Linked DNA regions of Homo sapiens. The protein of the gene in region 1 purifies or fractionates together with the protein of each later gene. This does not show direct contact. Each region holds a gene or a part of one and is shown on either strand. Other genes may lie near its edges.

What was found.
Region 2: the proteins of NYX (region 1) and AMD1 purify together in Homo sapiens (affinity purification with mass spectrometry, with the first as the bait; one large-scale study listed by BioGRID). This does not show direct contact.

What each region holds. Positions count from the first base shown.
Region 1 is NC_000023.11:41,445,748-41,450,147, reverse strand, and holds the start of NYX (nyctalopin precursor), read right to left. Parts: upstream 2,806-4,400; 5' UTR 2,632-2,805; exon of another isoform or gene 2,300-2,631; 5' UTR 2,244-2,299; coding exon 2,222-2,243; intron 1-2,221.
Region 2 is NC_000006.12:110,891,572-110,894,108, forward strand, and holds part of AMD1 (S-adenosylmethionine decarboxylase proenzyme), read left to right. Parts: intron 1-589; coding exon 590-632; intron 633-727; coding exon 728-872; intron 873-1,163; coding exon 1,164-1,256; intron 1,257-1,338; coding exon 1,339-1,494; intron 1,495-1,904; coding exon 1,905-2,045; 3' UTR 2,046-2,537.

The DNA.
Region 1 (4,400 bases):
TAACATGGGGGGAGGAGGTGGAGGTATTTGCACTTATGCATCTGAGAAGTGGGGCACTTCCAGGAGCCCTGTGTGTCCAGAGGAGAATTTCTCTTGCCCCAAATTTCCCTGCTGCGAGCCACTTCTGATTTCTCCAAGGTGTTGTTTTGTGAGGCTCACTTAGTCATTTTCTTTCTGGCCAAGGAGGTAGAGCACTATCCCTGCCTGCTTCTCGGGAACATATTGTCCGTATTGCTTGTGACTCGCAGTCAGAGAAATATTCTCTGTGCTTGCTAGAGTGTGTTTTAAATTAAAGTGCCAGGGGATGTGGAGATGGTCATTAATTTTAAGTGCATCTATTGTTAGCAAATGATGTCACCGCTGAGCTCTCCAACTTGTCACAAGAAGTCTGGATATATTTCGGGTTTCTGTAGCAGGGACAGTTCCTGTTTTGAAGTGTGCAGGCTATGAATACGGTCTGCTTTCTGTGAGGAACGGTAGAGCTTTTGGTGCACGTTTAAAATGATACTGGCTGTTGGAAGCAAACATTGTGCCCCAATGAGTCAATCAAGTTTCATTTTTTTTTCAAGGTAGGAGGAATGGCAAGAAGTTGACTGTTAGTAATTATATAAATATCAACCTCTGTTCTTTAGAACCTCTTCGAGGTAGGAAGTCATGTCCTATTTATCACAGTGTTCCACGTGCCTTGCTCCAATTTTTTTTATTGCTTATTTATTGAATCTCTTATAAAAGAATTTTCTCAAAGACAAAGAGCATGCTATTATATCCCTCATAAATATCTCTCGAGCGTTTTGAAGGCACACAGTGTATGCCTGTTGGTTGACTGAACAGAGCAAGTTCCGGTTTTTGAAAAGGTGGAATAAAGAGGAAGAAAACTCCATTACTCCTGTTTTAGATGATCTGGTAAAATGTTCTCTATCAGCATCGCATACAGAGGTCTATTACATAGATCATCATATCTCAAATAATTAAATTCACTTGAGGGTCAGAAAAAAACAGATTCTTTGTGTAGAATCATTTACTGAAGAATTTAAAGGATTTTTCCTTGGGCTATCTCAGTCAGATTGGAACAGCTAGAGCCAGGGAAAATATTTCATAACGAGTCTTCTTGGTATATTAAAGTGCACATAACAGAGCGAGAAACTTTGAAAAATAACTTCAATATCCATAATCCTATAATTCCAAGGCATTTTTCATTTTTTCTTTTTCCTTTAGGAAGGTGGTTTTTTAAAGGGACTTTTGTTTTTAACTAAATGAGCTTAAAATAATGTGATTAGAAACCACTGTAGGCTGGGCACGGTGGTTCATGCCTGCAATCCCAGCACTTTGGGAGGCCGAGACAGGCAGATCACCTGAGGTCAGGAGTTCAAGACCAGCCTGGGCAATATGGCGAAACCCCGTCTTTACTAACAATACAAAAAATTAGCTGGGCGTGGTGGCAGGTGCCTATAGTTCCAGCTACTCAGGAGGCTGAGGCACGAGAATCACTTGAACCCGGGAGGCGGAGGTTGCAGTGAGCCAAGATCCATGCCACTGCTCCCCAGCTTGGGCGAGAGTGAGACTCTGTCTCAAAAAAAAAAAAAAAGAAAAGAAAAGAAAAGAAAAAACCACCGTACGGTGGCTCACGCCTGTAATCCCAGCACTTTGGGAGGCCGAGGCGGGCAGATCACGAGGTCAGGAGATCGAGACCATCCTGGCTAACATGGTGAAACCCCGTCTCTACTAAAAATACAAAAAATTAGCCAGGCGTGGTGGCGGGCACCTGTACTCCCAGCTACTCGGGAGGCTGAGGCAGGAGAATGGCGTGAACCCGGGAGGCGGAGCTTGCAGTGTGCCGAGGTCGCACCACTGTACTCCAGCCTGGGTGACAGAGCGAGACTCCATCTCCAAAAACAAAACAAAACAAAAAAACACTGTAGCACTGTAGCTTTTGGTTATCACACCAATGAATTCATATCTGAAATTAGAATAAGAAAATCACCAAGAGGACTATTTCATATATTCGGCTCAGGAGTTTTGTTTTTAGGAAACAAAAATCCCCACCACCTGCTGTTTTCTTGCTTTCTCTATCCCCTCCCCCACGATCACAGGGTCAGTGAAACCTGATCAGAAGTGTCCAGATACCGCTGTCCCAGAAGCCACTTTAAAGACTCTTTGGGCAGAAGCTCTGTGGCTTCCACCCCTCTTCCCAACCCTTGCACCCACCGGCAGGAGAACTCACCATGCAGAAGCAGGACCAACATCCCTCGGCCTTTCATCCACCCAGTGGCTTAGGACCACCCAGCCGTGGGACCCCTACCTGAGGGGAGAAAGGACAGGTCACCCAGTGCCCAGGAGGGCCCCATGAGAACCCTCCCATGCCTCCACACTTCTTCCTGAATGCCCTGCCTTTCTTTCTTCCTCACATTCCTTCCTTCTTAATGACCCTGGTGTTGGGCTAAGGGAAACCAGTAACAACAGAAAATCAGAAGCTCCCCACAAATGGACAGTTTGGATCTATTAGGAAACCCTTTGTCAGGCTACAGCCCTGACAGCAACTCAGATGGCATCACTGACAACCCAGCAAGGAAATGGATGGAGAGGAAACCCCTGCAGAGAAGCGTTAGTGAATGGTCCTCAAATGTTGCTTACCGTCCTGGGAGTCTCCCTGGTCCTGCTCCTCTGAGGTCCCCCTCCACTCCCTCAGCCCATCCATCTCCCAAGTCAGGCAGCCACAGATGCTGAAAATGGTTTGAGAGAGAAGTAAAGGTGGGGGTGGGGGGACGGGAGGAAGGGGTGAAGAGGAATAGTTACTTGTGCAGGTTTGAGTGCTTATTTTTCTTTCTCCAGATTTAATGGCAGGAAAATCCTCTGTATCACATGAGGATTAACAGAGATGAAAGAATGTGTCTGCCTTTCGAATCACTAAAGCCAGTGACAGATTTTGCTGACATACCAATCGGCTTTATCCCCGGGCCTTGACCACCCTGGCCCTCCTGTCCTCTCTCCATCTGCCTGGCCCCTTTCTCTCCTTAAACCTTCCCCAGACCCTGCCCCGTTCCCTGACCCCAGCCCCAGCCCCAAGCAATATGTAGCCTGAAATTGGCTTCCTGCCACCCAAACAGCATTATCAGCATTTTCAACAAGGACGCATTATATAACTTGGAGAGCTGGAGAAGGGACAGGACAGCTTAAAATGTTTCCCCAAAATGCCGGCTGCTGATTTCCTTTCTTTGAAGTGGTTGATGGTGAATGATACAAAAACGGACTGGAGAGAGTCCTTCCACTACAAGAAGGCAAGAGGTTCCCACTGGGGTTAGGGCTGGTAGTGGTGGCCTAAGGCAGTGGGTCCAGGAATGGGACCTTCAGAATCTGGCTGAGGTTTCTGAAACCCACCAGGACTCAGTTTAGGCCCTGGCTACTCAGTGTGGCCGGTGGACCAGCAGCAGTACCTGAGAGCTCGTTAGGAAAACAGAATCTCAGCGCCTTCTACCCCCCGCCCCAGACCTGTTGAATCAGCATCTGCTTTTTTTTTTTTTTTTTTTTTTTTGAGATGGAGTCTCACTCTGTCGCCCAGGCTGGAGTGCAGTGGCACAATCTTGGCTCACTGCAACCTCCACCTTCTGGGTTCAAGCGATTCCCCTGCCTCAGCTTCCTGAGTAGCTGGGACTACACCATGCCCAGCTAATTTTTTGTATTTTTAGTAGAGACGGGGTTTCACCATGTTGACCAGGATGGTCTTGATCTCTTGACCTTGTGATCCACCCGCCTCGGCCTCCCAGAGTGCTGGGATTACAGGCGTGAACCACCGCGCCCGGCCAGCATCTGCATTTTAACTAGGTCGGCGGAGAGGGGGATTCCTGTGCCCGGTAAAGTTTGGAAAGCCCTGTTTTAGGAGACTGGTGGAGGGGGTCTGATCAAAATGAGGGTGGCAGGGGGGCCTGTTTATCTAGCCTTTCTGGCCAGCAGTTCAGGTGCCCCCACATTCTCCTGGCCCCAGCAAGCCTCTGCTGTCTGCTGGGACAGCACTTCCAGGTATCCATGGCAACCTGCCAAGTTCTGGCCACGCAGGACTTGGTGAGCCAGTGCTGATGAAAGGAAGCCAGGAGTTCCCTTCCCACAGAAAGGGTTCTGGATGTGAATCTAGACATCTCAGGCCACCGTGCCCTGGGGAATTTTTGTTTTCTTCCATTTGAGCCTTGAAAGCCAAAATGTGGCTGAACTTGTCTAACCTGCTGGAAAGAAGAGAATACTAGGGATGGGGTAGGGATGTGGGTGGGGGAGGCCTCTCAAATGACATCTCTATCCCCAGTGTTGGACTCGCCTGGCTTATTAGATGAGAGCAGTGGGCAGCCCTCTCATTGTGACCACCAGTGTCGGAGGTGTCCCTGTAGCCATCACCCCAAGCCTTAGCCCAACGA
Region 2 (2,537 bases), on another chromosome or scaffold:
AGTAACTTTGCACAAAGTCGCTCATAAGCATGAAAATTGAACTTAGCACATCTACTAATATGAAACCAAACCAGGCTAATCAGAGTGTTGGGTATTTACTGCAAATACCCGCCAAGTCAGTCGATCCTGCTTATCTGGGAATTTACCTACTGTTTCCATTCCTTTCACTGATGACATTTCTTTTTTCTTGAGATGGCGTCTCGCTTTGTCACCCAGGCTGGAGTGGAGTGGCGTGATCTTGGCTCACTGCAACCTCCGCCTCCCGGGTTCAAGCAGTTCTCCTGCCTCAGCCTCCCAAGTAGCTGGGATTATAGGCATGTGCCAACACGCCCAGCTACTTTTTGTATTTTTAGTAGCGATGGGGTTTCATCATGTTGGCCAGGCTCGAACTCTTGACCTCAAGCCCACCTCTGCCTCCCTGCCAAAAGGGGTGGGATTATAGACATGAGCTACTATGCCCAGTCCACTGATGGATGACATTTCTAATAAGTGGCAAATAGTATCATTCTGCTTATTGTGGAAGGGTAGTAACAAACCATCCTATTAAATGGATGTGTTATATTTATTTTGCGTTCTCTTCCCTCAACAGATGGAGCAGCATATTGTATGGGACGTATGAATTCTGACTGTTGGTATGTTTAATGCAATTTTGTGGATTTTTGTTGTCCTATGTAAGATTTAAACTGCCAATTGTCATTTTTAGGAACTATTTTTAATTTTTATTTAGGTACTTATATACTCTGGATTTCCCAGAGAGTCGGGTAATCAGTCAGCCAGATCAAACCTTGGAAATTCTGATGAGTGAGCTTGACCCAGCAGTTATGGACCAGTTCTACATGAAAGATGGTGTTACTGCAAAGGATGTCACTCGTGTAAGCATTTTTAGTAATAATTGTTGCTGGACTCTTCTGCGTGGGGACTAAATTTTATTTTTCATTCTGTAACTTTTAAGTTCAGGGTAACAAGTGCTAGTTTGTTACATAGGTAAACTTGTGTCATGGGGGTTTGTCGTACACAGTATTTCGTCACCCAGGTGTTAAGCCTAGTACCCATTAGTTATTTTTCCTGGTCCTCTCCCTTCTCCCACCCTGGGACTAAATTTTGGACTCAATTGAAGTTTATTTGTCAAACCCTTGTTAAACTCGGTCTTTTTCCCCCCCCAGGAGAGTGGAATTCGTGACCTGATACCAGGTTCTGTCATTGATGCCACAATGTTCAATCCTTGTGGGTATTCGATGAATGGAATGAAATCGGATGTGAGTAGTTATATATTGCTTCAATAATTATTTAAATGTGAATAGTCTTTCCATTCTTAACACTGTGAACTTTTTCTCTCAGGGAACTTATTGGACTATTCACATCACTCCAGAACCAGAATTTTCTTATGTTAGCTTTGAAACAAACTTAAGTCAGACCTCCTATGATGACCTGATCAGGAAAGTTGTAGAAGTCTTCAAGCCAGGAAAATTTGTGACCACCTTGTTTGTTAATCAGGTAATTTTATATTTTATTATTAATCAGGTTATTTGATTTTTAAAATCTTAAAGGAAATGAGACAGTGAGGCCTAAGATGTATTCTGAGATAGCACATATACCAGCCACTCAGATATCCAGAAGTAATATTGTTTGAGGTTACTGGTAGCTGAGAAGCTTTGTTTCATTAGACCTGTGTCAGTCCTTGTTTTCTGTCTAGCCAAACTGATGGGTTCCTCCTGTCTTGCTATTGACAGGCCTCTGGTGGGAGGAACCATAAGATGCCCTGGCCCCTCCAGCACATAAGAAGGCAGCTAAAATAACTCAGATGTCTTAGTTTCATTAAGATAAAAGTCTGTCACTTAACTGTTTTGGTTGAAAATACTTCTCTGGATTGCAAACACTAACGGTTATTTAATTTTTTCCCCCAGAGTTCTAAATGTCGCACAGTGCTTGCTTCGCCCCAGAAGATTGAAGGTTTTAAGCGTCTTGATTGCCAGAGTGCTATGTTCAATGATTACAATTTTGTTTTTACCAGTTTTGCTAAGAAGCAGCAACAACAGCAGAGTTGATTAAGAAAAATGAAGAAAAAACGCAAAAAGAGAACACATGTAGAAGGTGGTGGATGCTTTCTAGATGTCGATGCTGGGGGCAGTGCTTTCCATAACCACCACTGTGTAGTTGCAGAAAGCCCTAGATGTAATGATAGTGTAATCATTTTGAATTGTATGCATTATTATATCAAGGAGTTAGATATCTTGCATGAATGCTCTCTTCTGTGTTTAGGTATTCTCTGCCACTCTTGCTGTGAAATTGAAGTGCATGTAGAAAAAACCTTTTACTATATGAAACTTTACAACACTTGTGAAAGCAACTCAATTTGGTTTATGCACAGTGTAATATTTCTCCAAGTATCATCCAAAATTCCCCACAGACAAGGCTTTCGTCCTCATTAGGTGTTGGCCTCAGCCTAACCCTCTAGGACTGTTCTATTAAATTGCTGCCAGAATTTTACATCCAGTTACCTCCACTTTCTAGAACATATTCTTTACTAATGTTATTGA